Homo sapiens: one gene and its partners. The protein of the gene in region 7 interacts with the protein of the main gene of each other region in a pairwise test. Each region holds a gene or a part of one and is shown on either strand. Other genes may lie near its edges. The genes, in order: SEC22A, BET1, ZDHHC15, SLC38A7, PEX16, APOD and CLEC10A.

Region 1 (4,626 bases), on a different chromosome or scaffold from region 7:
CGGATCATCTGAGGTCAGGAACTTGAGACCAGCCTGGCCAACATGGTGAAACCCCGTCTCTACTAAAAATACAAAAATTAACTGGGCATGGTGGTGCATGCCTGTAATCCCAGCTATTCAGGAGGCTGAGGCAGGAGAATCGTTTGAACCCAGGAGGTGGAGGTTGCAAAGAGCCGAGATTGCGCCATTGCACTCCAGCCTGGGTGACAAGAGAGAGACTCTGTCTAAAAAAAAAGAAGCTAAAGAGATATGACGACTAAATACAATACCTAACACTAGTCCAAATCCTGTGCCAAAAAGCAATAAAAAAAAAAAAATGCTATAAAGCATATTCCTGGGTCAACCGACAAAAAAAGGAAAGTTGGCAGTAGAGTAGATAAAGTATGGTAGGAACATTAAATTTACTGAGGCTGATATGTGTACTGTGGTTAAGTAAGAGAATATCCCTAATTTTAGAAAATATACTCTGAAGTAGTTATGAAGAAAGGGGCATGGTATTTATAAGTTTCTCTCAAATGGTTCAGGAAAAAAAAAATAAATCAGATAGTTAAGTAGGTAGGTAGATAAAATGAGAAAACAAATGTGGTAAAATGTTGACCAAAGGTGACTATGGGAACAGGTGTTATTTGAACTTTTCTTATTCATACAACTTTTCTGTAAGTTTGAAATTACTTCTAAATAAATTCAGAAATTAAAAATGAAAAAATAAGCACTGAAACATGAAAATTAACCATATTCTATTGGAAAAAAAGCTTTCTAGAATCTAGTATATACCCCACTATAATAAATAAGCAGAGCACAAAACACAAAGTAACCCTTTTTAATGAGTCACCTAAACATCATTGCATAGCACTGTCAATATAGCTGGTCTAGATCAGGGGCAGTAAACAGCATGCAGGATGTAATTCACCACTCCTATGCTGGACTCTGCTAAACTACACAGTAATCTTTTTTTTTTTTTTTTTTTTTTTTGAGATGGACTCTTGCTCTGTCACCCAGGCTGGAGTGCAGTGGCACAATCTCGGCTCACTGCAACCTCCGCCTCCCGGGTTCAAGCGATTCTCCTGTCTCAGCCTCCTGAGTAGCTGGGATTACAGGCACACACCACCACACCTGGCTAATTTTTATATTTTTAGTAGAGATGGGGTTTTACCATGTTGACCAGGGTGGTCTCAAATTCCTGACCTCAAGTGATCTGCCCACCTTGGCCTCCCAAAGTGGTGGGATTACAGGTCTAAGTCACCACGCCCGGCCTACACAGTAATTTTTACTGTAAAATTCTGATCCATACTGGTCACCTTACTATTTTCTTTCTCGAATAACATAGAAGCAGAATTTATTAATGTTTAGAATAAATATGTTCACAGGATTCAAATTTAACAAGAATGAAAAATAAAAGGGTATACTGCACTTAAAGTGTCTTATCACTCTTGCCCAGATACCCAGTTCTCCTTCCCTTGGGCAATTCAGGTTAGTAATAATTTCTTATGTATCCTTCCTGTGAGAGCTTGTAAGTAAATATGTGTGTGAATATATACATGTGACATATATATATATATATGTATATATATATATGAGACCTTTTTTAAAGACCATCCTAGGCAGCCAAATGGGCTTGCCACCTACTAGTCGTCTATTACTAGTGGTATGGGATATACTAGTGGTGAAATAGTGCTGATCTTATGGTTCTAGAGTAACCTGGTTGTTCCTTTCTGAAGCATCACTTAATACACAGTCATTTAGTGCAATGTTTTTCAAAGTGCAAGTTGTAAACCACTATGTCATAAAACTAGTTTAGTGAACTACAGCATTTTCCAGAAATTGAAATAAAATATAACAGAAAATATTGGAATATTGTTTCATAAAACTTTTTAGTTTCCTATATGTGTATATACAGCATTCACAAAGTAAAATGTATCTCTTAAGGATCATAATCAAATTAATTTAGCCATAGCATATTGCCTTTTTCTACAAATTAATATCTAAATCAAAGGTCAAAATATGCTTTGTCAAATGATTTTCTTTCCAAAAAAAATCTTCACTGTCATTATCAAAGTTCTTTGACATGTCATTAGCATTCAAATATACCCCATAATAACCTCAATAACCTGAAGACAATTGGTAATTGGCTTCCACATCCTAGGAACTCCCAATTGGCTAGCTAGGAGTTATTTGATTATCCTCCATTAATATGACTGAAGTTTTTGGAACCCATTTTTTGTATTATGTCAGAGTCTTACTGTATTTCCATATTAATAACAGAGTCAGCCACAGACACCTACATGACAGTTTATCCCAAATGGTCTATCTTACTTGTGCTAAATGTAACTAGACAATTGTATGTGAAATAAAGGAAACCCTATGTCTTTAACATGGCATGTGAGCATTTTCAGGGAGTCTTTATTTTACTACAGTTGCAAGATTCTCTCTGAAAAGGCTATAGTGTGTTCTATAACATTATGGCTTTTCATAGTAAATTTAGTTTTATAATGCTTTATTTGAAATGCAAAGCTAGTTTTCCCAAAGTATATACAGTTCCATTTATGTTTGTGATGAAAAAAATTCTGCTTTTTCAACAATCATGGGACAGATTGAAATACTCCCACCACTTCACTGAGGACTACTCATAAAATAGTCTAAAGTCATTACAGGCATGCCAGTTTGTGCATGCTTTTGCTGTGTTCATCAGGTTCACCTAGCTAATATTTTATAGACAATCTGGCGGATGTCTATCTGCCTTGAGGAGAAAGAAGAGAAATAGTAGTAAGAGTAATAGCACCACGTAGTTTACTGACCGCTTAGTATGAGCTAGGCCCTTTGCTAAGTATTTTACATATTTAGTTTCATTCTCTCAATAAAGGGGCACTATTATCTCCATTTTACAAATGAAAGAAAAGAAACTCAGAGAGGCTTAGTAACTTATCCAAGGTCACACACCATTAAGAAGCAAAGATAGGATGAAGTTAGTTGATTCCAAGGCCCACATTCTTTCCACAATACAATACCAACTTCCATGTAGTATAGATTAACCAATTATCCCTAATTCACCAATGTTTTTTCACTTTTTCCAAGCCACAAATCAATCTCTATTTTATTCCCGAAATTAAGAGTAATGAAACTTCTGAGTTTTGGAACCTGTATTACAGTTATCTTCTGGAAGCCCTCCCAAACACTCCACTTCATTTTGTACATCTTTACTCCTCCCTCTCTACATTCCAGCCACCCACTGGCCTTATTTCAGATCCCCAAGGATGCCAACCCACTTCCAGCCCTCCCACTTCCAAACTGAGAAACTTCATGATTTTGTCTTCCCCACTTGCAATGCTCCAATTCTGAACTGGCTAATTCCTACATATCCTTCAGTTCTTAGACTGAAAGTCCTTCCCAGAACACACAATCTAAACTGATCCCACTCCTACAGTATATCATAGCAGCTGTTAGTTTTCTTCACAAACTAACCCAATTTGTAATTGTATATTAATATATTTTTGTTGCAATGTCTCTCTCACTAATATACACACTCCATGAGAGCAGGGATGATTTCTGTATTGCTCACCATTATATTCTTAGCACTTAGAATATTTTGTGTCTAGTATACCATAAGTGCTCAGTAAATAAATGAGTGCAAAGGTGGCATCATTCCTTTACTCATTTATACACTAATTTGTTGAGTATATCATGCACCAGTAATTGTACAGCTTAGTAGTATCTACACAAAGCAGCAGCTCAATAAATACTTGACTAAATGACAGAAGAGAGTAGAACTTCACTTGTCTTCTAGTTACTGTTCTCCAGAAGGCTTTATTGAGGGTTCAGGTCAGTGAATCTTCGACATGTCCTTAAGAGAGGGATGTTCTCAAGAGCCAGGTAGAATTACTCACCTTCACAGTGAGTACCCCGAGAATGGCTATGCAGGTCTCAAAGACTTGTCTGCTCTCCCTTTATCACTGTCATTACTCACACACAGACAGACACACATACAAACACACACTCTCTCCTCTTTTCTCTATCTTGGGCACAATTTTTAAATTGCCAAGGTTTTTTCCTACTTTGCTCTAATTTCCTTTATATTGTTTAGCTCCATTCCATTTCTGGGCTTTGGTGCCAGTGGGGTTTGGTCTTTACTGGTACTGCTTTTCTTTTACCTGAGGAATTTATCCAATTTCATTATATTTTTGGTTCTCCTCCCTGGCACACCCACTAGGAACTTCTTTAGGGTCAAGTATAACCTAACAGGTAAGACTGGCAGAAGTCCAAATACCAGACATAGGAGATTTACCCCTTCTAATCACTTTGCTAAAAAGCTAATTCTATAATGTGTCCAAGCCATTCCACAAGTGATTCCTATGTTCAACAAAATGAATAAATGGTTTTACACATTAAACTTTTTTCTAGTATCTAATTTGATTTACAAACTGTCGAAGAAATTTTACATATCACCAATTAAACACTGACATTATTAGGACAATTCTGGCCTGTTGCACCAAACTAAATAATTAGTAATAGCAAATATCTTCCTCTCAGCAGACAGAACACCTAGCATAGGGCCAGCATTCTACTTCATAGGCTCTGATGTCAAAGATATAGTCCCTGCCTGCCAGGAGCTTACCATACTACTACTGGGGA
Region 2 (4,626 bases), on a different chromosome or scaffold from region 7:
TCATTGCCACAGTCCTCGTTTAGAATATTTTAAAACTTGCATCCTGCACTCCCAGAAGTCTTCAGCGTCCTTCCATGATTTAATAAAGTTCATGCTTCGTAGCTTGATTAAATCAGATAGATCTTTCAAAAATTGGCCTTAGCTTTTGAGATCTTATCTCTCACACTTCCAGAATCTGTATGTGCTTCCTGCTAGACAAATTACACTTTGTGTCCTCTGTATGCTGTCACTTTCCCACCCCCATATCACACTATCCCTTTGCCTTAAGCCTCCACTTCCTTCTTAGATCAACTGAAGTGCTGCTTATCCACATCCGCCCCACTTCATTGCACCCCCTCCCTCCAAACTTTTACCTGATTACCACATCCAAAAGTAACTTTTCTTCTTATGAACATAAGACCATTTGTGCCATTTCTGTAGCACTTATTCATAGTGATTTGCATTGGCATTATTTGTATGTAAAAGGAATTTACCAGAATGCAGGTTTTCTATTGTACTTACTTTATATTCTATATAGCACTTAGCATAATTCCTTATCAATGGTGTTGAGTAAATTTGTATTGAACCAAAGAATTACACGAAGATGATTTTAATAATATATGTGATTGATACTGCATTATAATGAACATGACGTTCACTTATAAAGCATTCAGTAGAAGCCCATGTTGATAAAACTTAATTGGTATTTCAATATAGTCTTTGGAAAATCGAATTACATTCAGTCTGGAGACCTTTAGATTTTGAAACAGGATTGTTTTCAAAGTCATATTAAACTAAAGTTGATTTATGAACTAAGTAATATTGTATAATGTTAATTTTAAAAATACAACACTTGGAAGGACTTAAGAATTAAATGCCTTTAAAAACCCCCCCAATGTAGATAATTTAGATTACTTGTTAGAAGAAAGTTGTGATGTCCTGGAAATATTTTTCCTTGGCATGAATGACAGTGATAGAAGTTGAGTAATGTGGGCAGTCTAGCTTTATAGTTACTTTATTATCTCTGAGTTGTTAAATCTGGGAGGAAAGCTCATGTTCTGATCTATAGAATTCTAGTATGGTTTTGTATCAGTATTATCCCATGTGCTTTCACACAGATGAAGAACAATATTTGCAGTGATTTACCAAGATTTTCAGTAGATGATTCTATTTATTTAAATATCTTGGAAGTGAAGCCTTTGATGAATCTGTCCTATAAAGTATTAGATAGATTTTGGTTTGAATAGTTGTCATAATTAGCTATAGTATTGTATTTTGTAAGCTATGGCTCTTTTCTTCAGAGCTTCAGGAAGTAAGTAACACTAATATTTATTTTTTTCAATTTATTATCATATTTTAAAGCAAAAACCTTTAAACTAAGGAAAAATCAGTTTAGACATATTTAAAGTAATGTAACATTTCATTAGGAAAATATTAAATACTTCTGTCTAGATTTGAATTGGTTGTATGGGTACTTCTAGATCTTTCAAAATGTAATAAGGTTGGGTACTAGGCTTAATTCTTGGTTGACGAAATAATCCGTACAACAAATCCATGTGACATGAGTTTAACTGTATAACAAACCTTCACCTGTACCCCCAAACCTAAAATAAGTTAAAATATATATATATAATTTATAAAATATAATAAATAAAATGTAAGAAGGAAATATACAGATATTTGTAGGAATTTGTAGCTTTTGTAGGAATATAATAAAGATATAAAAGCATACAAGGTTAAGAGAATCAGAGAGAAGTAGTACATACCAAATTAAAAGATGGAATTGAATATTAAGATGAAATTAAAATAAAGAGGAAAGAAGAAATGTCCATAATTGGGAGGAGTAGAAATTCCAAATTTATTTTTTATTGATCTTGGTAGAAAAAGTATCAGAAAAAGAGAGTTTATGTGTCTAGAAGACCGTTTCATTTCAGAAAATGTGTATGCTTAGAATGACATTATTTTTACTTTATAACACTTGAATACTTTTATGTGAGTAATCCTGTGTATACCTTCTTCTTTATAGCTTTCCATTGAAATAGGCCATGAAGTTAAAACCCAGAATAAATTATTAGCTGAAATGGTAAGTGGTTATGATTTTAACTTTAAGAAATTTGATCTAATATTCGCAAATAATAGAATTTCAACTTTTATTCATTTTGAAATACAGAGATCGTAAGTCCTTGATTCCCGTCCATTTGTATCTAATGTGTTTGGAATAACTATAAGGTTTATTTTGCCATGCTTTTGCATTTTTCATCTCGTCTTACGCATGTAAGTGGGAGGAACAAGTGGAAGCCAATATATCTTTAATCCTGTTTTTAGAATGATTGTTAAAAACAAGACAAATGACTATTTTGAGTAGTCTTAGAAGTCTCAATAGTAGAGACTACTAGTAATTTATTAACCAAGCAATCAAAAGGCACTTGATATCCAACCAACTAAATGTCGTTCACTTAATGGATACTTACTCTTTTGCTTGATTTCCTAAGGATCACTTATGAAAAAAGTGCTCATACATTTGAACAGCCCAGAGCCTTTTCTCTCTAACAACATATACCTTTTCTTGTTAGAGTCCCCTTCCATTTGTTAACGTTTATCTTGAATGTCAAGCTTCTCTGAACCTTCTCTGGTTCCATGTGCTTTTAAAATTGTGCTATTCAAAAATGAATTTGGCATCAAAAGCAATGTTCTTGCTAAGCTTGTGCGCTATAATAAGCTAGGGACCTCTTTAAAAATGTATATGCCTGATTCTGTCTTTAAATATACTGATTTAGAATTTCGTGAGGAGGGATCTAGATGTAAATATTTTGAAAAAAGCATCTCTGGTGATTCTGATGCATAACCATGAAAAAGCATCTCCGGTGATTCTGATGCATAACCATGGTGAAGATCCATAGATCTAAAGTATATGAGCCACATAGACACTGAGCTATACAAAGGATATTTATTATTATGCCAGGGCTTTTACATCTCAGGATATTATAATTTCTATGAAAGTATGTGTAATATTTCTAGTCCCTACCTAAGCCTCTCTCATCTTTAGGATTTTCCAGCTATGTTTTAATACGTTAGTTTTTCCCCATCCATATTTATAGTCCTTATCACATTTTACTACCTCTATATGATATTCTCTTAACTTAATAGACTCTACTTCAAAGTCAGCTGTCTAAACAAAAGGATATTAAAAGTAAAGGTCCAAGGCCTAGCATGGTAGCTCACGCCTATACTCCCAACATTTTGGGAGGATGAGGTGGGCGGATTACCTGAGGTCAGTAGTTCAAGACCACCCTGGCCAACATGGTGAAACCCCATCTCTACTAAAAATACAAAAAAATTAGCTGGGCGTGGTGGCGTGCGCCTGTAGTCCCAGCTACTTGGGAGGCTGAGGCAGGAGAATCACTTGAACCTGGGAGGCAGAGATTGCAGTGAGCTGAGATTGCACCACTGCACTCCAGCCTGGGCAACGAGCGAGACTCCGTCTCTAAATAAATAAATAAGTAAATAAAAGTACATTTAACTGCTAACCGTATTACATTTTGGATGAAATCCTCTACTTGGGTAGCAGTCAACCATTTGACCTTGGAGAGCAATGGCACAACAAAAAGTGGGGAAAAAAATCTGTGTGATAATGCACAAAGTACTTACATTTATTGTTAATTTTTTTTATCCACATAATTGGAATAACACCTAAATAGTTTTGAGTTGTTGAATTACTCTGTGGAGCTGAAAGAAGTGTTTATTGGACAATGAAAGAGCTTTTTATTCGCTGAGAGTATTACTGTATTTTGCATGGAGAAATCAGGCTGATTATCCAAGGTTATCAACAGGCTCCTGAATTGATTAAACACAAAACTGTCATTACAAATGTACTATGGTAACAGTTATTCAATTACTTGGATATGCATATGTAGACTCTTAGAATCTAACTGTGATATTTTATTTGCCTTTATCTCTGATAGGATTCACAATTTGATTCCACAACTGGATTTCTAGGTAAAACTATGGGCAAACTGAAGATTTTATCCAGAGGGAGCCAAACAAAGCTGCTGTGCTATATGATGCTGTTTTCTTTATTTGTCTTTTTTATCATTTATTGGATTATTAAACTGAGGTGATGCATGTAATTGTGAATTTGGAATTTGTTCCAACTTAATGGCTTGCAGTACCACTTTGATAAAAATCAGCATCAAAACATTCCTAGTGTTCAAATACTGTGGCATTTTCCATTGAAAATTGCTGAATTTTGCTTATTTTATAAATCACATTAGTTAATACAGTGGTCTTTGAATACTGTTTCTTAATGACTCATTTTAGCCCCTATTTTCAGGGGTAGTGAGAGGGTGTGGCTCCACTAATTTCCAGTTTGTTTTTCTATTGTTTGCCAACTGTCAGATTAAATAGCATTATAATATTTTGTTGTAATCATAAATGCAGGTTTATGTCCCATGTAAGGAAACTTAGTGGGAGAGTAACAGAATGCCTGGAGAGCCTGACTCTGAGCTCTTGAAGTAGTCAGCCAGTTTGTGGTAAAATGGTAATTGAATTTTCCTAACTGCATCAACTGTAATGATATACTCCCTTCTCCTCCTTTATTTAGTTAAAATTGTAGGCTGATTTCTTTTTACCTACAATCTTCCTAATAAT
Region 3 (3,681 bases), on a different chromosome or scaffold from region 7:
TACAGATGAGTAAACTAGGATCCATTGACATTATTTTTCTAGAGTTATGGAGATAAGAGGCAAAGCTAGAATTCAGCTTCATAATTGCCCAATTTCAAAGCTCTTGTTATTTCCATGTGGATTTCAAAAATAGTATTTTTGAAGTATCAAATTATATATTTACTAAAGAAAATGTGGAAAATGCAAGTAGAAGGTAGAGAAATGAAAACAAATTACCCATGAATCCACCACTTTCAATAGTTCAGTGTATTTCCTCAGTCTCTTATTCCAAATGTAATTTTGGGGGTCAAAAATATAGCATTGTATATATAATTTTATATCCTGCCTTTTTCACTTAACATTTTTCAGTGCTGATCTATACTCTTCATAAATGTAATTTTAATGGTTGCATATTATTGTCAAGTGGGTGTTACCACATGAATATTTACAGTTGTTCAGCTCATCTGTGAATTTCTTCTCTTCATTCCCAGGACTCACCATCTCTGCCTCCCATGAGGCTTACAGAGTTCAATGTTGGAAATCATTGTAATCTTCAAAATAAGTCACCGTGTTGGATTGAAAGCTTCAAAATTTGAAAGAATTCCATCAAATACTTGCTGTGTAAATGTTTCTGGACTTTATGTTATTTAATTTACTGACTGAAATCCAATTTGGAATTTGGTAGCAGTTAATTCAAGCCAATTTTTTTTGTTTCTTCATTTCCCCTCCCCCAATCCATGAAAGCCTAAATGTAAAATATATCTTTTCATTCATCTTATCAGGTAAAAGGAAATTCAGAAAATTTCCTTAGAGTCTTTAATTCCCCCACAAAGATTATTAATCACATATATAGGGCCTTTTTGGTGTTGAAGGGAATCAAACTACATTTGCTGCTTGTGTGCGTGTGCATTTGTGAACACGTACAGCATATCTATACAAAATTCTGCTATAGTGTGAAAATCAGGGCTAAAAACCTGAAGCCTTTGTTTAATTATGCTTTTCCTCTAAATAGCAACTTAAATATTTGCTAGACTTTGAATCATCGCTATATCAAGTATCTAAAATTTGGGAGGGTGAATCAGTACACTGTGACCAAGGTCCTCAAATTGGAATTTGAACAACAATGTAAAACCTGTTCTGTCACAAATGTTCCTGAAAGCACCACAGCTACTCAAGAAGATCAAATTCAGGACATAAACTTTATTGAACATAATAACCAGTGTTTTTTAAAGACTTTTTTGTCAGGGTGCAGTAAAATTCTCCAATTACTTTTATTCATTTATCTGCTTCCTAGTTTTATTTTAGCCTTTATGAGTTATTTTATGATGAAAGAAAATCTATAAGCCTAAGTTATGGCCCATAGGTTTTGTTAAGGGTTTTCAGAGTGATTTTCAGGTTTAATTTCACTGCCTTTCATAAGGGTAAAGTTTCACAGCTGACATTAGCCTGAGGATTAGCACTAAAGAGCTGTGTTTTCATAGCAGGGGCTATTGTACAGACAGTGATAACCAAATAGTAATATGCCAGTTCTTTCTTCTTTTTTTAGCTTCAGTAGTAGCTAAGCCATTAATACAGTTTGCATCAATTTCCCCATTTATTTATAATCAGCCTTTCTTTTAGTCCTAGTGCCTGAATCAATGAGTGAGAATACTAGTACTGATTCTTTACAATAATAATATCTTAAGAGTATTGATATCTTTCATTTTTTCATCCAGCAGTCTAGTGCCCAGCTGCTGACAATAAAAGCTCCAACTCTTTTAGAGATCAGTGGAATTTAGAAGCATCTTACAGGTATCAAGGAATTGAGCTTCTAGAGGGATGGTTTGGCTTACTAATTTATCTTCCCTGAAATATGTTTGAGTAAAAAAGAGTTGCCTGCCACAATTTAGTGTTGGGGTTCCAGTGGAGCTGAGAAAGTGAACAATCCAGCTACTTAAAGCAACAACAAAACCTGTTCATCTGGATCCCTAGGTAATTTTGACCAAGGTGAGACTTTTGGCATAAATTAAATGGATTGTGGTCAGCATTACATTTGAGAGAATACTAGACATGACTACACTTATTAGGGCTAGTGACTTTCTCAAACTCAGAAGCTAAAAAGCAGCCTAGATGACTATGCACACACTGGGTTTCAAGATGAAATCTTCTTATATATTCAGATGGAAAAAAATTTCCCCTTACACTCTTTCTCAAAATACTCTCATTTCGGTTTTTCCTGAAACCTTATTTGGCCATTCCCATGGTTTTATGACAGACAAGCCTTGTCTTCTATTCATATAGATATGCACCTTTTTCTACATGTATGGCCTTTACTTACTACACAGCAAGTAGGCCTCAAAGTAATCTTCCTCTTTCCCATCAATCATCTTCTGCCAAGCATTCAGGCAGAGCAGCTGTTAACTGTGATTCAAAGTCAGAAAAACATCAAGAACTTCTTTGATGCATAGGGTGTATCAGCACTCAGCTCCCACAGAAGTCAAGTCACAAAATATAGTGTCAGTTAACTATAAGGAAGTTCCGGAGAGGTAAAGCTCAGGAAAGATGTAATGCAAAGCTGATTGTTTAATGTCTTACAGATTTACACTGTCTTTAAAAGGCCAAATAAGGCTGGGCGCAGTGGCTCACACCTGTAATCCCAACATTTTGGGAGCCCAAGGCGGCCGGACCACCTGAGGTCGGGAGTTCAAGACCAGCCTGACCAACATGGAGAAACCCTGTCTCTACTAAAAATACAAAAATTAGCCAGGAGTGTTGGTGCATGACTGTAATCCCAGCTACTCAGGAGGCTGAGGCAGGAGAATCGCTTGAACCTGGGAGGTAGAGGTTGTGGTGAGCTGAGATCGTGCCATTGCACTCCGGCCTGGGCAATAAGAGTGAAACTCTGTCTCAAAAAAAAAAAAAAAAAAAAAAAAAGCCAAATAAATCAGGGTTTTACCAGGGGCTCAGAGATAAAAAGAAAACCTATTCCTATCTTAGCATTTTGGTCTCATTGGTTTATAGACTCTGATAATATCCCTATCCATGGATCATTTGAGTATTGACTAATGTACATAGGTACCCAACTGGTTGATTATTAATCAAGAATACAGAACTTTATTTAATAATTAGCACACCCTGATCTGGCTTCTTTGCTTGCTTTTCTTTGGATCCCTGTCCAATAACCTCTGTGGAATCTCATTCCCTAATTGTTGATACTCATTTTCTCCGTTTGCAAAATGAAGATACTCATTGTTAGGATCCTACTGCTGAAGGGTGCTATGTCACTTTCTAGTGCTCTTATATGTCTTTAATTATAGGACTGGAATGAAAAGCTTAACCATACAGTATTTCTAAGCAAAATAATGTACTCCATTCTTTTGTCCATGCTCTCATTGCTGATTTGTTCTTGCAGGACTTAGAGCACTTTGTTAATGTTCTTCCATTCACTCCAACAGCGTCCTCAGAAAGAGACAGAATAAAAAAATTGTTCCCCATGGTACAGCTGGAAAAATTAAGGGGAAAAGAGATTAAGTGGTCCCCAATGGAACACAGCTGTCTTATGCAGGGCTCACAGTTACCATGTTCAGTACATTGTTAAAGTAACTTGGCTTCCCAGGACTGGAATTATCATGGAGCAGTTAGAATTTTGAGAGTAATTACAACAGGATCACATTCTGAAAGAGTCACATTTTGTCAAAAATCTGAAAAGTATGCAATTTGTAC
Region 4 (4,626 bases), on a different chromosome or scaffold from region 7:
GGATTGCTTGAGCCTGGTAGATTGAGGCTGCAGTGAGCTCTGATTGCGCCACTGCACTCCAGCCTGGGCAACAGAGTGATACCCTGTCTCTAAATAAATAAAGACTAAACCAGGGAGGGAGTAGAGATTAAAATGGAGTTTTGTATGAGTACCGTGAAATCGGGACTCAGGAATGAGGAGACTCTAGGAGAAGGAGTCTTTGGCAGATTTCGCCAGCCTGGGTGGTAACCAGCTAATAGCAGCCTCTGGGGAAGACTGCCCTGGCTCCTCCCTGCCCCCTTAGTTCCTGCCCTTGAAATCTGGCCTTCTTCCTGCTCTTTCTCCCATTAGCTATCCCAGGGCCTCTGTGCCCATTGTTACCTGGCCAATAGCACCAGGCTGTGGTTTGAGTTTTGTTTGTTTGTTTGTTTTGAGATAGAGTCTCACTCTGTCGCCCAGACTGGAGTGCAGTGGCGTGATCTGGGCTCACTGCAAACTCTGTCTCCTAATTTCGGGCGATTCTCCTGCCTCAGCCTCCTGCACAGCTGGGATTACAGGGGTGCACCACCACACCTGGCTAATTTTTGTATTTTTAGTAGAGATGGGGTTTCACCATGTTGGCCAGGCTGGTCTCAAACTCCTGACCCCAGGTGATCTGCCCACCTCGACCTCTCAAAGTGCTGGAATTACAGATGTGAGCCACCACACCCGGCCCAGGCTCTGGTTTTGATCAGTGTTCTGCTCCCTGCTTGCTTAGGGCTGGAGAGTCTCAGGCATGGTGGTGGTGGGCAACATGGGAAGGGGCATCTGCAGAAATAACAGCAGCAGTGACCATTTATTGAGTCTTAAACCCTTACTGATATTAACACACGACCCACAGGAACATATGATGTAAAGGCCTAAAGGGGCGAAGTGACTTGCCCAGGGTCACACAGATAGGCAGCGGAGGAGTCAGCATTCTGACGGCAGAACCTACTCGGAGACCCAGATCACAGCCCTGCCCAGGGCTGCTCTTGATCTGGGGGTGGACTTGATGCTTTAGGACCATCATTTCTCTGCGGGTCTCAGGCTATGAGCTGAACCTTGAGAACACTGAAGATCCTTTTTCAGGGCTGGGCTCCTCAGAGCCTCTCGAGATTCTTGGAAGAAAAAAAACTGCATCTCAATTGTGTTTATCCAGAGAGCAAAGAGAATCAGTCAGGTGATAAGCCTGTTATCTGAGTTCTGCCATACCCAAGGTACCATCTTGGACCCAGGAGTGGGGCAGATACAAACAGATGGATGCCCTATGGTCAGACAGGCCTGGGTTTGAATCCCAGCTCCACCACTGACCGCCATATGACTGAGGGGAGAGTGGTTATCCCCTCTGGGATTCAGCTTCCTCTTTGGTAAAATGGTGACTGTCATGTCTACCTTTTAGGGCTGCATTGAGGATTGAATGAGAAAGCATTCCATAGCTGCAGCAATAGTGGTTTATAGTGACAAACAGCACTGCATGTTTGGCACTGATCATTGTAATCTAGCCCAGGAAAGCAAGCCTAGTGGCCAGTGAGATGCTAGCACATGAGAGAGTACTGAGAAGAAACCAGCTAGAGTGGTTCTGGGCCCCTACATGGCTCCAAGAAGAGCTCAGTGAGTGACCCAGGAAATGGGGAAGAAATAGGACCTAAAAGGGTGGCGGCAAAGGAGTTGGGAGCATTAGAAGCATGGGATGAATCACTGTTTTCCTGAAGACGCAAACATGACAGGCATGGGGGCTTGTCACATGAGAGAAGAGTCGAGAATTGGCCTGAATTTCGAAGGGCCTCGAAAGCCACAGAATTCAGACTCCAGGCCACCGGGAGGCGTGCTGGACTGTAATATGTTGAATCTCAGTTCTTGGTAAGGGGTCCTTTTGGGACCCTGTGGGGTGGAAACAGGCTGGGAAGCCAGACAGATCTGGATCCAAATCCTGCTATGCAACTTGCTAATATATGACCCTGGGTCAGTGATGGGATCTCTCCGAACCTTTTGACCACAAGACCATCCTAAGGATTGAATGAGATAAAGTATATCCATGACACACCTGCCCGATGCGGGGCCTCTATCGAGTGCTGATGTGTTAGTACCCATTTTATGTTGACATCTAACTGGTCCATTGAGTCTGTATGCCTGAAGCAAGCATGATTTGCACCTGATCTGTTTCTGTGTCTGTCTCCCCATACTCTGGCACCCAGTGCACTGTCTGCACAGAGGCATACCTGGGTTTGGACCCTACCCATGTGATCTTGGGAAAGTTATTACACCTTTTTGTCCCCTAGTTCCCCCATCTTAGGATAACAGTAGTGCCTGCCTTTGTCCCATCTAGGTTGAGAAGAGTCCTAAGCTAACAGCCCCAAACAGGTGGGTGTTGCTCAGCTCCCTGAGGCATGTGGTTGTAAGGCAGAACCCACAGACCTTGCAGGAAGAAGGCTCTCGGGGCCATGGCCCAGGTCAGCATCAACAATGACTACAGCGAGTGGGACTTGAGCACGGATGCCGGGGAGCGGGCTCGGCTGCTGCAGAGTCCCTGTGTGGACACAGCCCCCAAGAGTGAGTGGGAAGCCTCTCCTGGGGGTCTGGACAGAGGCACCACTTCCACACTTGGGGCCATCTTCATCGTCGTCAACGCGTGCCTGGGTGCAGGGTTACTCAACTTCCCAGCAGCCTTCAGCACTGCGGGGGGCGTGGCAGCAGGCATCGCACTGCAGATGGTGAGTGCACTGGCCGGGAGGGCAGAGGTGCAGTTCAGTTGGGCGCTTTGCCTCAAAAGGGAGGCTTCGGGTCAGGGATGGCCAGTAAGTGATACACGCACTGCTCTCCCCTCCCTCACACATGGCAGACATGACTAATCTATTCTAGTATTCTTTCCTGTGACCCAAATGAGGCTTCAGAAGCCTTCCAACAATCAGAGAAATTTGAACATCAATTACATCTCTAATTTTTTAGGTGTAACATTGATTTTGTGGTATGTTTAAAAAGAGGGCCCTTATCTTTTAGAACTACATACTGAAATATTTATTGATGAAATGATATGATAGCTTATATTGGCTTCACAATAAATGCAGAGTGGGAGGGAAGGGGAATGATGAAACAAGTTGGCCATGCATTGATCATTTTTGAAGCTGAGTGATGGATACATGCCAGTTCTTTTTACTATTCTCTTTACTTTTTTCTTTGAGATGGAGTCTTGCTTTGTCACCCAGGCTGGAGTGCAGTGGCCCGATCTCGGCTTACTGCAGCCTCTGCCTCCCAGTTTCAAGTGATTCTCCTGCCTCAGCCTCCCAAGTCGCTGGCATTACAGGCACCCACCACCATGCCCAGCTAATTTTTGTATTTTTAGTAGAGACGGGGTTTTACCATGTTGGCCAGGCTGGTCTCAAACTCCTGACTTCAAGTGATCCTCCTGCCTCAGCCTCCCAAAGTGCTGGGATTACAGGCATGAGCCATCGCATCCAGCCTATTCTCTTTACTTTTGTATGTTGGCAATTTTTCAAAAAACTTTTTGTTTTTAAAGAAAATCTCAACTCGGCATCCTCTAGCAGTCTCTTAAAATTGCCTTTGTGAGATTTGCCAAGCTTGCTTTGGGCACTGGCCCAGTAAATGCTAGGCGAGCCCAGGGTGCCCTCTGCTGCCAGGCCTTTGCCACAAGCTCTTGTTCTGCCTCTGCCTGCAGGGTATGCTGGTTTTCATCATCAGTGGCCTTGTCATCCTGGCCTACTGCTCCCAGGCCAGCAATGAGAGGACCTACCAGGAGGTGGTATGGGCTGTGTGTGGCAAGCTGACAGGTGTGCTATGTGAGGTGGCCATCGCTGTCTACACCTTTGGCACCTGCATTGCCTTCCTAATCATCATTGGCGACCAGCAGGACAAGAGTGAGCTTCTCCCTCAGTCCCTACCCCATCTCTTCTTATCAGCCCCAGGGATCCTGGGGTGGAGGGAAAAGGCACTGAACACCTCTCCAGGACTTACCTGGGCCCAGCATTCATCTGGGAATCCTCCCTCCAGGCAGAGGGAGGTCCTGGGGCCCAGCAGAGCAGGAGGGCCACACCCCATGGTGGCCTGGCTTGACATTCCCTCCTTCCTCCCTGTGCAGTTATAGCTGTGATGGCGAAAGAGCCGGAGGGGGCCAGCGGCCCTTGGTACACAGACCGCAAGTTCACCATCAGCCTCACTGCCTTCCTCTTCATCCTGCCCCTCTCCATCCCCAGGGAGATTGGTTTCCAGAAATATGCCAGGTTTGGAGGCCCCAGCCTGGGTCAGACAGAAGCTATGATCCTGGGCAGCTGTAGACCCAAGGGCTCCTGGGGAACCCTGCTCCTCCATGCCACCTCACCTTGGGGAGCAAGAGTAGGCAAGGCAGGGCAGACCGGGGCTTGCAGGGTTTCAGATAAGACCATCCTTTTCTGTCTCCATCATAGAAAAAGGATGCATCCATGAGAGATTCAGTTCTAAATGTCCTTTTGCATCCATGAGTAGTTCAGTTCTAAGTGCCCTTGTCAAAGAAGGAACAGGTGGTATCTGGGCGGTGAAGGCAGCCTCCTGGCATTCCCTGGGAGGAATTTGGGTCTTTGAGACTGTCAGCCTACCAGCATCTTACCTGCAGCTTGGCATGAAGGAAGGAGACTG
Region 5 (3,983 bases), on a different chromosome or scaffold from region 7:
AGGCCTCTAGAGGGTCGCATGTGGAGCAGCGCCCTGGCAGTATGGTGGAGGGTCCAGGGAGGACAACCCCACCCTGCCCTCGGGAAGCCCCCCAGTCTGGCAGAAGTGCTGGGCTGCATGGAAACCTCACAAGCCACCAATGAGAGTAGTCAGGACCTTGGTAGGGGACACAGTACTGAAGAGGGCACATTTTGGTTCAGGGGAAGGGGCAAGGCCCAAGGCCCTGATTTTTAAGACAGGAGGGTTTTCCACAGGGGAACTCGGGTGAGATGAGGATGCTGATGACAATACATAGCGCTACGTGCTTACTACACCCCACGCACTGCTGTACGCGTTAGTCACTGAACCCCTACAAAGTGGGTACTGTCATCATCCCCATCTTACAGGTGAGGAAATGAGGCACAGGCGCATCAAATAACTTGCCCAAGGCTACACATCTGGAAGGCGGCCTGACTCCTTATATGTCTGTCTGAGCAGCAAGAAAAGAGGAAGCCTGGGGGCCGGGTGTGGTGGCTCATGCCTATAATCCCAGCGCTTTGGGAGGCCAAGGCGGGCAGATCAATTGTGGTCAGGAGTTCGAGACGAGCCTGACCAACATGGAGAAACCCCATCTCTACTAAAAAATACAAAATTAGCCGGGCGTGGTGGCGCGCACCTGTAATCCCAGCTACTTGGGAAGCTGAGGCAGGAGAATTGCTTGAACCCGGGAGGCAGAGGTTGCGGTGAGCCGAGATCACGCCATTGCACTCCAGCCTGGGCAACGTGAGTGAAACTCCGTCCCAAAAAACAAAAGAAAAGAAAAGAAGAAGGCTGGCTGGGTGCAGTGGCTCCACCTATAATCCCAGCACTTTAGGAGGCCAAGGCGGGCCTTTGTTTCCCTAAAGGACAGGGAGCAGGGTCCAGAGAGGTGCCAGGGTGTGGTCCAGAAGGAGCAGCCTTACTCTTTTTTCTGTTTTAAAAAAAAGATGGGTCAGGCCAGGCGCGGTGGCTCACGCCTGTAATCCCAGAACTTTGGGAGGCCGAGGCAGGCGGATCACGAGGTCAGGAGATCGAGACCATCCTGGTTAACACGGTGAAACCCCATCTCTACTAAAAAATCAAAAAAAATTAGCCAGGCATGGTAATGGGCGCCTATAGTCCCAGCTACTCAGGAGTTGAGACAGGAGAATGGCATGAACCCGGGAGGCAGAGCTTGCAGTGAGCCAAGATTGCACCACTACACTCCAGCCTAGGCAGGCAACAGAGCCAGACTCCATCTCAAAAACAAACAAACAAAAAAAGACAGTGTCTCGCTCTGTCACCCAGACTGGAGTGCAGTCGCGCGATCTCGACTCACTGCAACCTCTGCCTCCTGGGTTCAAGCGATTCTCCTGCCTCAGCCTCCTGAATAGCTGGGACTACAGGCGTGTGCCATCACACCTGGCTAATTTTTGTATTTTTAGTAAAGACAGGGTTTCACCATGTTAGCCAGGATGGTCTCTACCTCCCGACCTTGTGATCCGCCCGCCTCGGCCTCCCAAAGTGTTGGGATTACAGGTGTGAGGCATCGTGCCTGGCTAAACTATGCCAGTTTTGTTTTTTTTTTTCTGTTTTGTTTTTTTGAGACAGGGACTTACTCTGTCACCCAGGCTAGAGTGGGATGGAGTGATCATAACTCACTGCAGCCTCAGCCTCCTGGCCTGATCCTCATGCCTCAGCTTCCTGAGTAGCTAGGACTTACAGGCGCACACCACCATGTCTGGCTAATTATTATTATTTTTTTTTTTTTTTTGTAGAATTGGGTTGCCCAGGCTGGTCTCGAACTCCTGGCCTCAAGCCAACCTCCTGCCTTGGCCTCCTAAAGTGCTAGGATTATAGGTGTGAGCCACTGCTGCCCAGCCTATGCCAGTTTTTAAGCTATTATTAGGTCCTAGACAAAGGGGGTCCCGGGAGCCTTGTCTGCCTCACAGTCCCAGCCACTGCACAGGGTTTCCCCCTGTCAGACTGTGGTCTAACCTCAAGCAGTCATAGTGGCAGGCCTGTGGAAGAACTAGTCCCAAGCTGCCCCCTGCTCAACCCAGCAGGCCTCTCTCAGGCTGGGAGCTCTGGACCCTCGCAGGTGACTGAGTGGGGGCTGGGCCAGGCAGGGAAGGCCAGGGGAGATCCTGGGTTTGGGATCTAGCTCTACCACTGGCTAGCTGGGTGTCTTTAAGTTGCCCAACCTCCTTGAACCTCCAGGTCCTCCTCTGAGAAGTGAGGATAAGCCAAACTATTTGGCAGGAAGAAGTGGAAATGAGCTAGAGGCCATGGGCGCCCGCCCTGTCGCCATCCCTGTGGGCCACCTGGCAATGCCCTCAGCCCTGCCCTCAGTGCCTCTCCTGCCAACCAATGTTTAAGTTCCTGCTCAAGTGGCCTGATGGCCCAGAGAGCTCTGCGGGCGGGACTGGGCTGGCATCTGGTGACTGCCACCCGGACAACACACAGTGCTTGGTGAACCCTGGATGAGGCGTGGGGAAGGGAAGGCGCCAGCAGGGACCGGAGCACCAGTGCCCGCTTGCCAGCCCTCTCCCTGGCTCAGGGTGTCCTGGGTGCTTACTCGGAGAAGCGGTCATAGAAAGGAGAGCGCAGCAGGTAGTAGAGCAGCAGGATGGTCCGGCGCCGCAGCTCCCGCCGCTCCCTCCGGGTCAGGCCCTTTCTGTCACTCAGGAGGCTCAGGCTGGGAGGCAGGGAGGACATGGTCAGGGCCAGGGGCATGATCTAGGCCCACGGAAGGGGAGGAGCCATGGGCTGGGTGTCCAGAGGGGCAGCAACAGGAGGAGCAGGGGCCGCTGCCACCCCGCCTATGTGAGGCCAGGATTATAGCAGAAAGCCCAGTGGAGAGTGAAGCCCCAGGCAGGCCCAGGCTCACCTGGTCACGTCCACAACACCAGCCAAGAGCCAGGGTTTCCACGACCTCTGACCCCACAGGCCCAGGCTGAGCACTGACGGCCAAGGCGTCAAGGATGTCTCCAGCACAGGGGCCTTGCTCAGCACACTCCCCACTCAATCCCCAGCCCACAGTGCCAGCCCTATCCTGCCCCGCGCTAAGGATACAGTGCAGCAGCGGCCGGGCAATGTACAAAAACTCTGCGATGGTCTCCTGCAGCCCCAGGGGGGTGGGGGTCGCACTCAGCTCCTCGTGATGCTGCTGCTGCCGTCCCTCCCGCTGCTGGGGAGCTCCCCAGTGCCTGGAGTGCAGGGACGGCGCTAGAACACAAGGGCGGCAGATGAGCGAGCCAGGCCCAGGCTGGGGCAGGGGAAGGTGGCTGCTGACCAAAGCCAGTCCCTCAAGCCCAGGCAGACAGCACCTAGGTGCCCAGGCCAGCCACATCCTCCACTTACTGTTCTGGAGGGTTCGCACCACCCGGTTTGACCGCTTCCCCACGTAGGACTGCTCATGGTTGCCAGGGCTGTGGTCACCATCTAGCAGGGATAGACAGAAGGCCATACAGTCAGAGGGACATGCTTCCAGCGGAGCCTGCAAAGAACGTGTGCAGTGAATGCTCAGGAGCTAAGGGGAGAACAGATGAGCTTGTACTATGGCAACAGCTGAGTCAAGGGAACTACAAGCAGGGTGGCGGCTCAGCACAAGACCCGTCCACAGAGGAAAGCACTCTGCAGCCCTCCCTAGCCTGGGGAAAGCTCAGCATAGCTGTGGCCAGAGCCAGCCTCCCGGAACCCATGGACAGGCAAGGCAGGGAAGGCCCAGCCTGACCACATCTATGGAGACCACAGCACCAGAGGGGCCGTCTCCTCTCAATCCTTTGCCTTCAAAACAATCATGATGAGAGGCAATGAACGGCCCCAACTCAATGTCCAGAGAGTGAGGCCCAGAAGCTGACGGGATGGGCCCAAAGCCCTGAAGGGACAGATGTGGTGCGTGCCCTGCCTCCTGCCTCTAGAGGCTATGGTTCTGGACACAGAACCAGGCTCAGAGTCGAGGTTGGCGGCATCCCATCTGTTCC
Region 6 (4,626 bases), on a different chromosome or scaffold from region 7:
CAAATTCCAATTGGATTATTTGCAGAAATTGACACGCTGATCCTAAAATTCATATAAAAATGTAAGGGACACGGAATAACCAGAAGAACAAAGTTGGAGGACACATGTGTTCTTATTTCAAAGCTTACCTCAAGGCTTTGATTACTACAAAGCTATAGTAATCAACACTGTGTGGTACTGGCATAAGTATAGACATATAGATCAATAGAACTGAGAGTGCAAAAATAAACTCTCACATATACAGTCAATTGATTTCCTATAACGATTTCCTACAAGAATATTATTTGGCAATAAAAGGGGATATAGTATTGATACATGCTACAACGTGGATGAACCTTGAAAACGTTCAGTAAACCAGTCACAAAAGACCACATATAGTATGATTTCATTTTTATCAAATATGCAGAATAGGCAAATTCGGAGACAGAAAGTAGATTAGTGGTTGCCTGGGGCTGGAAGGGTTGGAGGGGAGATGGAGACTCCGTGAATGGGTATGAGGTTCCTTTTCGGAACAGTGAAATGTTCTAAATCGATGGTGGTGGTGATGGTTGCGTAACTCTGTGATGATACTAACAACAATGGAAAGTGAAAAGCTACTTTAAACAAGTGAATTACGTGCTATACAAATTATATCTCAATAAAGCTGCTATTTTTTAAATCCTGCTTTAATTCTCAAAGGACTTCTATAAATACAGATCAGTTATCATTTCCAAAGTGCTTTGGGATTTGTATCCAAAAGCGAAAGTATAACTCAGATTCCTTGGATGTTTTCTTTAAAGCCTCTCTGTGGTCTATCAGAGTTACCTGAATAAAGGGATCAGCCTGTAAGTGGAGCAAGTCAGTGTAGACGTTAGTGTACTCTATGGCCTCTTCCTACCACACCTGTATCTCCTGATCCCATGGATGGTGCTCCTTCTCCCACCCAGCGTCCCCTCAGAGGTCCCAACACTCATTCACCTTGAGGTGCGAGTGTATGATAACAACTTCGATGTTACTGTTGCCATTCTTAAAAGAGATCCAAACCTTCTCCTAAGGAGAGGAAGTCTTAAGGGTGAGATTCCAGGCTTGAGTAGCAACAGTGGGAGCCTGTGAGTCCTGTCCTCCAATAGCTGCCTCTTTCTGCCGCCCTCTTCCTTCCCCTCCCGCTAAACCCCAGGAAGAAAGACCATCTATGGAGGAGCTCGTTGTATTGATGACATTTTGGTGCAGATACCAAGAAAGCCCCCTGGAGAATTTTGGGCTTTCCTGAGCCCTGTTTGAGTGACCTTTGGGTGCCCTGCACTGCTGAGAAGCCTGGTTTTGAATCCTACTTGCATTTACCAGCTGCGTGAGCTGGGGAGGGAGATTCCGATGCTGCATCTGTAGAACAAGGATAATAGCTCTGTAGCAGCTACTATGGTTCCCTGGTCCTGTTCCCCTCAGCCCACCTCTGAGTTCACCGCAGCCACGGTAGGCAATTCCCAGACACTGCCAGCCTCCCACCTGAGACCCTGTGTCTCTCCTCTGCCAGGGGGCTCAGCTAGAGCCACGGATGCTCCCATGACCTGCTGGCAGCAGCTGTGGGACAATCGGAGGGGCATGCTCCACGTGTCCTCAGAGGGTGCCCAGTGTGACTGACCCTGACGGCCCAGGGCGACAGCTCAGGAACGCACCCTTTATTGCTTCTGTGCTGTCTCCGACTCACCTTCCCACCTGCTCTCGTGCGTCCCGGGATCATCCCAAACCTCTCTGCCTGCAGTCTTTATCTCAGCAGATGTCTGCTTTGGGGAAACCCCAAATAAGATAAATACTTGTCCCAAGGTGTGCAGTGGAAATTAAAGCAGCATAATTACATTGAACCTTGTAGAACGCTTATTCACAGCGGAGGCAGCAAAACAAACGGGAGGTTCGCCTTTTACCTTATTCACGTCAAAATTCTCCTGCACCGGAGGATTGGGGCACTTCCCAAGATGAAATGCTTGTCCCTCTGCCGCACCGAAGAGGCCAGCCAGTGCGGAAAGCAGCAGCAGCAGCATCACCATCTTGGGGCTGGGTGGCTGGAGAAGGGACCTGGAGCTGCGGGAACGCAAAGCAGCTGGGGTTGTCATTCTGAGCCTTCTAAGGCCACACAATCATGAAGTAAGAGTGCTGTGCCCATGGTCCCCTCTGTGGGCGGTCCCTCCTCTTCTCTCCCCAGCCCATGTGAACCCTCATCCTGCAGGGGAACACCTGCCTGTCCTTGTTGCTGTGAGGCCTTCCTCAGAGCCTCTGCACCTCCACGAGGGCGCTCTCTGCCTGGTATTCTGGTTTGTTGGATTGATTTTCACCCCTGTCCCACCTAATTATGCATCTCCCAGGATGGGCACTGTGTCTAGTTCTCCTCAGAATCACCCACGGACCTCAAAGTGTCGGCTCAGTAGATACTTGTCAAATGAACAGAAACAGCGTGGAGAGGGCTATGTAAAGTGGGGGATTAAAGCCTCCAAGTGAACCACGAAAGACACGAAACCAAACCAAATGTTGCCCAACACTTAGTGTCCTCTGAGATTCTTCAGGGAGATGCCTCTCTGACACCATCCCTCCCCCTGCCCTCGTCTTGCTGGCTGTTCTACCAGCCCAAGAGTGCGCTTGGAAACCTTAACAGGGAGCGGCCTGCTGGGGGCTCCAGGGTCACCCCAGCCAGGTTCAAATTGTGACTCTGCCCCATACTAAGTATAACTGTGTCCAATTTATGCCTTAGCTTCTTTGTCTAGTAAATGGGAATAATTATCATTCCTAGCTCATGAATTTTTGTGAGAATTAAATGAGATAATATACAGAGAGTACTTAGAGGAGTGTCTGATACAGAGTAAATGCTCAATAAATGCTAGTTATTGTTATTATCAAAAGCAGAAAGATGATGGTATTTCCCAGGTTTCTTCTTTCTTTTCTTTTCTTCTTTCTTTCTTCTTTTTTTTTTTTTGACATTCTGTTGAGGGTTTTTGTTTTGTTTTGTTTTGTTTTGAGATGGAGTCTCACTCTGTCACCCAGGCTGGAGTGCAGTGGCACAATCTCGGCTCACTGCAACCTCTGTCTCCCGGGTTCAAGTGATTCTCCTGCCTCAGACTCCTGAGTAGCTGGGATTACAGGTGTCCACCACAACTCCCGGCTAATTTTGGTATTTTTAGTAGAGACAGGGTTTCACCATGTTGGCCATGCTGGTCTCAAACTCCTGACCTCAGGGGATCCACCCGCCTTGGCCTCCCAAAGTGCTGGGATTACAGGCCTGAGCCACCGCACCCGGCCTGTTGAGGGTATTTTTCATAGATGAAGTTCATTAAATCAGAGAAGGACTGTCAGCTGATGTGTAACTGTGCAACAAGCATTTCAACCCCAAGAGTCCTTTGGCAGCAGAAGCTGGCTTTGAAGCGGGGCAGCAAGGCAGGGAGACAGAGGCTGCAGGACTGTGTGCAGGTTCTGGGCATTGGAAGCTCCCCTGTTTCCTTCACTGACTCGCTGTCAATTTGCTCCTTTCCTTGTGACTCCTTGCCTGTAGCTTGCACACGAGCTATTTCCAGCTCTCTGCATTTCTCCCTGTAATGATGATGACTGATGCAATGCAAGCAAAATGTTCTCAGATCTGAGCATTTCGAAGGATGTGTCATTACAGGAATAATTATAACTGCTTTATTGTGAGTCTCTAAACCTCTAAATACCCTTTAATAATCAATAGCTTTTTTTCCCCTGGAGGTTTTGTTGCCTGGTTTTCCAAAGAACAGTTATGTAAGGAGTGGCAGCTTGCCAGCTGGGGTTGCTGCAGGGGGAGATGGTTGCTGAGGCCCCTTTGAGCAAGTCTGCCACAGGGCCACTTTCCCTGGTCTCTGAGGTTCCGTTTCTCATCGGCTCCACCACTGTATAAACAAAACCTGTCTTTTAACCTTTTGGGGGATGATGAATTTATAGAAATGCAGCCTAAACCCACACAAATTTGCATCCATTTTAAAGAGATCTTGAATTCTACTTAGTAGGCCCAAGCTGAAAGCCTGGCCCAGAGGATCAAACCTCAAAGACTGGCCACACACTATGCACATTCCACAAGGTCCCCACACTGGATAGGACCTTAGAGGTCATCTTTCTAGCTCTACTTCCAAGGTGTACAGATGGGGAAGCTGGGGCCTGGAAGGGGCAGAGAGCTGGGACTCGAGCTCCATCTCCCCCTCTCCTGTCTGCAGCACCCCGAATCTGCTTCTTCTGTGCACCGCCATAGGGCCTTTCAATAACCCCCCACCTCTGTGACCTGATGAGTCTCACCACCACATGACACTGCAACAAAAGTCAGTTCTACATCTTACTCTGACAAAATGCTCTCTTGTGAGCTGAAACAGATTCTTTACCTCAGTAGGAGGATTTCAGAACAACCCCTTTGACTGACCCTCTTCCAAAGATGCCTCTTGGTTACATTAGTTTTATTCCTGTGGTTAAAACTCCTTGTGATGCCAGGTGCGGTGGCTCAAGCCTGTAATCCCATGGGAGGCCGAGGCAGGTGGAGCACCTGAGGTTGGGAGTTCAAGACCAGCCTGACCAACATGGAGAAACCCTATCTCTACTAAAAATAAAAAAATTAGCTGGGCATGGTGGTGCATGCCTGTAATCCCATGCTGCCTGTAA
Region 7 (4,341 bases):
ACAAAACCAGCTTCTCACACGGTCTTCCCATCTTAATTAACTGGGACTCCATCCTTCTAGGTTTTCAAGCCCCAAACCTGGAATTATCCTTGACTTTCTCATTTTCCCAAACCCCTCAGACAACCCATCAGCAAATCCTGACAGCTAATTCAGACATTCCTATATGCCAGGGAGCTTTCTGGGTACAGTAATACAGCAATGAATGGGTCCTGCCATCCCTTAATGAACTTAAAAAGTTGGTTCTTAATAGCTGAAATGCAGCTGGGTGTGGTGGCTCATGCCTGTAATCCCAGCACTTTGGGAGGCCGAGGCGGGCTGATCACCTGAGGTCGGGAGTTGGAGACCAGCCTGACCAACCTGGAGAAACCCCATCTCTACTTAAAACACAAAAGTAGCCAGACATGGTGGCAGGCTCCTGTAATCCCAGCTACTCGGAAGGCTGAGGCAGGAGAATCACTTGAACCTGGGAGGCGGAGGTTGCAGTGAGCTGAGATGACGCCATTGCACTCCAGCCTGGGCAACAAGAAGGAAATTCCCGTCTCAAAAAAAAAAAAAAAAAAAAAAATCAAAATAGCTGAGATGCTTCCCTGGTATATGCTGGATTGATTGAAAAAACAGAAATCTCCACCCCTCTCTATATCCATTCTCTACACAGTATGACTTTGTAGACCCCCCCCCAACCCCCCACCAAAATGTGGAATCTATTTCTCTGGCCCTTGAACCTGGGCAGCCTTGCAATCTGCTTTGGCCAATAGGATGCAGCAAAAACGATGCTTCAGTTCCAAGCAAGGCTCTGAAGTCCTTGCAGTCTTCCAATTTCTCTCTTGGACCCCCACCCAGCCATTCTGTGAACAAGGCCAGGCTAAGCTAATGTGGCCCAGTCATCCCCATTGTCCCAGCCCAGAGCCAGCCAAATATGAGACATGGGAGCAAGGCTACCCTAGACCAGCCAACCCCAAGCCAACCCACCAGCTGACCACGGACGCATAAACAAGCCCAGCCAAGATGACCCAAACCTGGCCAGACCAGACCTATAGCCTCATGAGCTATAATAAATGCTTACTGTATAAGCCCTGAGCTTTGAGGTGGTTTGTTACACACCAATTGCTAACCAATACACCTGGGGATCTTATCTACATCTCCCAACAACTCTGGGATCTTCAGAGAAATTAAACAATGGCTTTTCCTAATCACCCTAAGTTTATACCATCTTTAAGTGACAGAAAAGATTTGAACTCAAATCTATATGAGAAGAAAATGCTATTTTCTCAATCACATAGGACTTTCGAAGGCTTCACCTGGCTTCTCCACTCTGCCATTTTTAGATTGCCAAAAATCAAGCAACACAAAGTACGTAAGTTCTCACGAGAGTATATATTCACTTATATGAAGTATATACACGAGAGTGTATGATTTCACTTATATGAAGTTCTAGAAGCTCTAGAAGAGGCAAGGCCAATAAATAGTGAAAAAGAAGTAGATCACTGGCCTGGAAACAGGGAAGTGGTTGGACTGCCCAGAGGCATGAGGGGACTGGTGGGGGCGATGGCAATGTTATCTATTGCGATCGGAGTGGTAGTCACCTAGGCATGCATATTTGTCAAAGTCATCTCTACTCTTTAAATGAGTGCATTTTTATTATGTAAAAATTATACCTTCATGAAGTTGACTTTCAAAAGTTGGAAAAAAAATAAAAGCTTAAGAACACTATACCATCTTTTTAAAATTAAAGAGAAAAAAATTCAAAATGTTAGCAGTGCTTCCAATCTCCCAGTGCTTATTTCTCTCCCAGAGCGGTCTTGCGAGGAGGTCGTGAGAAGAGTCCTCCTCCCACCGCCATTTCTGTGGCCGGGTGGTCCCACCAAAGGCAGCTCAGTGACTCTCCTGGCTGGTCTGACCCAGGCCAGCCTCGCAGACCCAGTGGTAGGGCCTCTGGCAGACGTCGTCATTCCACCTGCCGTCTGGATGGAAGTGAGCACAGTCCTCGCCTCCACCCAGCCCGTGCCCCTGCCAGTCGTCTGGCTGGCCTGGCTTCCAGTTCCTGAGAGGAAAAGACAACAGCAAGCTAGGAAGGGTAGATGGAGTAGAATTCAGTTCAGGGGAGGAGAGGCTGCCAGTCAGATCCCTGGGGGAAACGCTGACGGAGGACATTGGCACAGAAAGCCAGGGTGCACTCACTGGAAGCCGGTCGCATAGTCTGTTCCATCCACCCACTTCCAGGCTCCTTCAGGGTCACTGAGGCCCATCCAGGTGTATGCGGAGCCTAGATATTTCTGGACAAAATTCTGCGGTGACAGAAGGGCAGTGGTGACTTCTTCCCATCCCAGCCAACTCCTTAAACTAGTGATTCTCAACTTTAGCTCTTCGTTAAATCAACTGAGGAGTTTGGAGATGTTTCTCTGGATGCTCAGGCCTATTAAATCTCTGAGGGTGTGGCACAGATGACAGTCATTCTGGAAGCTCCCAGATGATTCCAATGTGCGGCCAAGCTTAAGAACCATTTCCCTAAATGGGACATGTCTTAGGAACTGAGTACCAGAAGCCCTCACCTGCTCCTCCCTGGAGTTGATGACCACCAGGTGGGCGTTCTTCAGCTGGCAGTACTTCTCAGCCTCGGCCCAGGACATCCCAGAGTGAGAGAACCAGTAGCAGCTGTCTTGGTGCTCCACCCAGTTGACAGGGCAGCAGGTCCCTTCAGTGGAGGCTGATTGGGGAGAAATAGGATAGGGTGGAGAGGCTGAGGCTCTGCCCAGTGGGCCATGGGCAGAAAAGTAGGGCCAGGTACTCCCCATACCTTCCTCACCATTGTTGTTGAGAGTAGCCACCTGGCAGGTCAGTTTCTTCAGGTCTTGCACCAGCTGCTGGACTCGCAGGAGCATTTCAGAATGAACTGGGACACACACAGATGGGCAGTGGGGACAGTGGCCTAGGTGTGCCTTCTGCGTAGTGTGTTCCTGGAGCTCAGATACCCCTGCACAGGGCCAAGCCAGGGAATGTTCCTTCCCGCCCCCACCCACCCCCTACATCATGGCCAGGTACAGCCATCAAATCTGCTTTGGATTCCTCTGCCCCTGTTTCTCCAGCCTGCTCTCCAGAGAAAGCATGCTGCCTTTCTTTCTTTCTTTCTTTTTTTTTTTTTTTTTTTTGAGACGGAGTTTCACTCTTGCTGCCCAGGCTGGAGTGCAATGGCGCGATCTCGGCTCACGGCTACCTCCGCCTCCCGTGTTCAAGCAATTCTCCTGCCTCAGCCTCCCTAGTAGCTGAGATTACAGGCGCCCACCACCACACCCAGCTATTTTTTGTATTTTTTTTAGTAGAGACGGGGTTTCACCATGTCGATCAGGCTGCTCTCGAACTCCTGACCTCGTGATCCACCCGCCTCGGCCTCCCAAACTGCTGGGATTACAGGCGTGAACCACTGCGCCCGGCCTGCATGCTGCCTTTCAAGCTGCTGGCTGAAGGGGAGGGCAGTTCAGCACCAGGAGTCTGTTCCCACCTCCACTGTGTCTGAGCGCCTAGCCCCCCACACCCATACTCGGAGGGTCTCTCACCTGCCTGCCGTTCCTGCTTGAAACCCTCCACCTCAGCTTTCAGAGATGCTATCGTTTCTTCCAAGCTGCTGCCTGGAGGACACGGAGACTTGGCTTAGGGGTCAACTTCCTCCTCCCTGGCCTGGCCCCAGCCCAGAGCCCCATCCAAACCAGACTCACCCTGGGAAGTCAGTGCCTGGATCTCCGCCACAGTGTTTGAGGTGAAGTTGCTAAAATCTGTTCTCAGGGTCACCAGGTCCCTCTGAAATTTGGAATCTAAACAGGTGGATGGGAAGGTCAGTGCTGGGATTCATCAGGTCCTCTGTACCAGCACCGAGCAGGGCCCTCCATAAGCATTGCCTTATTGGGTCCTCACGGCAACCCAGTGGGGCAGGCACTATTATTGTTCAATATTGCCGATGAGGAAACTAAGCCTCAGAGAGGTGAAGTAATTTGAGTACATAACCCAACTACTCAGTGACAAAGCCAGCAGCCATCCTGACTATGGGTCCGTCAACTCTCTCCATCACTACCCCCACCACCGTCCCCATCAATCACTCCATCAGTGCCCCCCCACCATTCCCATCAATCACTCCATCAGTGCCCCCATCACCATTCCCATCAATCACTCCATCAGTGCTCCGACCACTGTTCTCATCAATCACTCCATCAGTGCCCCCCACTATTCCCATCAGTCACCCCATCAGTGCTCCCATCACCATTCCCATCGATCACTGCATCAGTGCCCCCCACCATTCCCAACAATCACTCCATCAGTGACCCCCACCACCATTCCCATCAATCACCCCAT

Evidence for each region.
Region 1: the proteins of CLEC10A (region 7) and SEC22A interact in binary tests that used the Homo sapiens proteins (3 or more experiments, as listed by UniProt).
Region 2: the proteins of CLEC10A (region 7) and BET1 interact in binary tests that used the Homo sapiens proteins (3 or more experiments, as listed by UniProt).
Region 3: the proteins of CLEC10A (region 7) and ZDHHC15 interact in binary tests that used the Homo sapiens proteins (3 or more experiments, as listed by UniProt).
Region 4: the proteins of CLEC10A (region 7) and SLC38A7 interact in binary tests that used the Homo sapiens proteins (3 or more experiments, as listed by UniProt).
Region 5: the proteins of CLEC10A (region 7) and PEX16 interact in binary tests that used the Homo sapiens proteins (3 or more experiments, as listed by UniProt).
Region 6: the proteins of CLEC10A (region 7) and APOD interact in binary tests that used the Homo sapiens proteins (3 or more experiments, as listed by UniProt).

The regions. Positions count from the first base shown.
Region 1 is NC_000003.12:123,217,817-123,222,442, reverse strand, and holds part of SEC22A (vesicle-trafficking protein SEC22a), read right to left. Parts: intron 1-4,626. UniProt on the Homo sapiens protein: May be involved in vesicle transport between the ER and the Golgi complex.
Region 2 is NC_000007.14:93,993,701-93,998,326, reverse strand, and holds part of BET1 (BET1 homolog), read left to right. Parts: intron 1-2,005; coding exon 2,006-2,062; intron 2,063-3,941; coding exon 3,942-4,097; 3' UTR 4,098-4,416; coding exon of another isoform or gene 4,417-4,433; 3' UTR 4,434-4,626. UniProt on the Homo sapiens protein: Required for vesicular transport from the ER to the Golgi complex. Functions as a SNARE involved in the docking process of ER-derived vesicles with the cis-Golgi membrane.
Region 3 is NC_000023.11:75,369,735-75,373,415, reverse strand, and holds part of ZDHHC15 (palmitoyltransferase ZDHHC15), read left to right. Parts: intron 1-470; 3' UTR 471-3,681. UniProt on the Homo sapiens protein: Palmitoyltransferase that catalyzes the addition of palmitate onto various protein substrates.
Region 4 is NC_000016.10:58,677,942-58,682,567, reverse strand, and holds part of SLC38A7 (sodium-coupled neutral amino acid transporter 7), read left to right. Parts: intron 1-2,326; 5' UTR 2,327-2,441; coding exon 2,442-2,711; intron 2,712-3,673; coding exon 3,674-3,872; intron 3,873-4,093; coding exon 4,094-4,235; intron 4,236-4,626. UniProt on the Homo sapiens protein: Symporter that selectively cotransports sodium ions and amino acids, such as L-glutamine and L-asparagine from the lysosome into the cytoplasm and may participates in mTORC1 activation. The transport activity requires an acidic lysosomal lumen.
Region 5 is NC_000011.10:45,911,244-45,915,226, forward strand, and holds part of PEX16 (peroxisomal biogenesis factor 16), read right to left. Parts: intron 3,442-3,983; coding exon 3,361-3,441; intron 3,226-3,360; coding exon 3,073-3,225; intron 2,961-3,072; coding exon 2,888-2,960; intron 2,696-2,887; coding exon 2,576-2,695; intron 1-2,575. UniProt on the Homo sapiens protein: Required for peroxisome membrane biogenesis. May play a role in early stages of peroxisome assembly. Can recruit other peroxisomal proteins, such as PEX3 and PMP34, to de novo peroxisomes derived from the endoplasmic reticulum (ER).
Region 6 is NC_000003.12:195,577,441-195,582,066, forward strand, and holds part of APOD (apolipoprotein D precursor), read right to left. Parts: intron 2,056-4,626; 5' UTR 2,022-2,055; coding exon 1,899-2,021; intron 1-1,898. UniProt on the Homo sapiens protein: APOD occurs in the macromolecular complex with lecithin-cholesterol acyltransferase. It is probably involved in the transport and binding of bilin. Appears to be able to transport a variety of ligands in a number of different contexts.
Region 7 is NC_000017.11:7,073,182-7,077,522, forward strand, and holds the end of CLEC10A (C-type lectin domain family 10 member A), read right to left. Parts: intron 3,807-4,341; coding exon 3,711-3,806; intron 3,624-3,710; coding exon 3,552-3,623; intron 2,972-3,551; coding exon of another isoform or gene 2,891-2,971; coding exon 2,804-2,890; coding exon of another isoform or gene 2,795-2,803; intron 2,705-2,794; coding exon 2,550-2,704; intron 2,286-2,549; coding exon 2,179-2,285; intron 2,042-2,178; coding exon 1,873-2,041; 3' UTR 1,356-1,872; downstream 1-1,355. UniProt on the Homo sapiens protein: C-type lectin receptor involved in recognition of N-acetylgalactosamine (GalNAc)-terminated glycans by myeloid antigen presenting cells (APCs).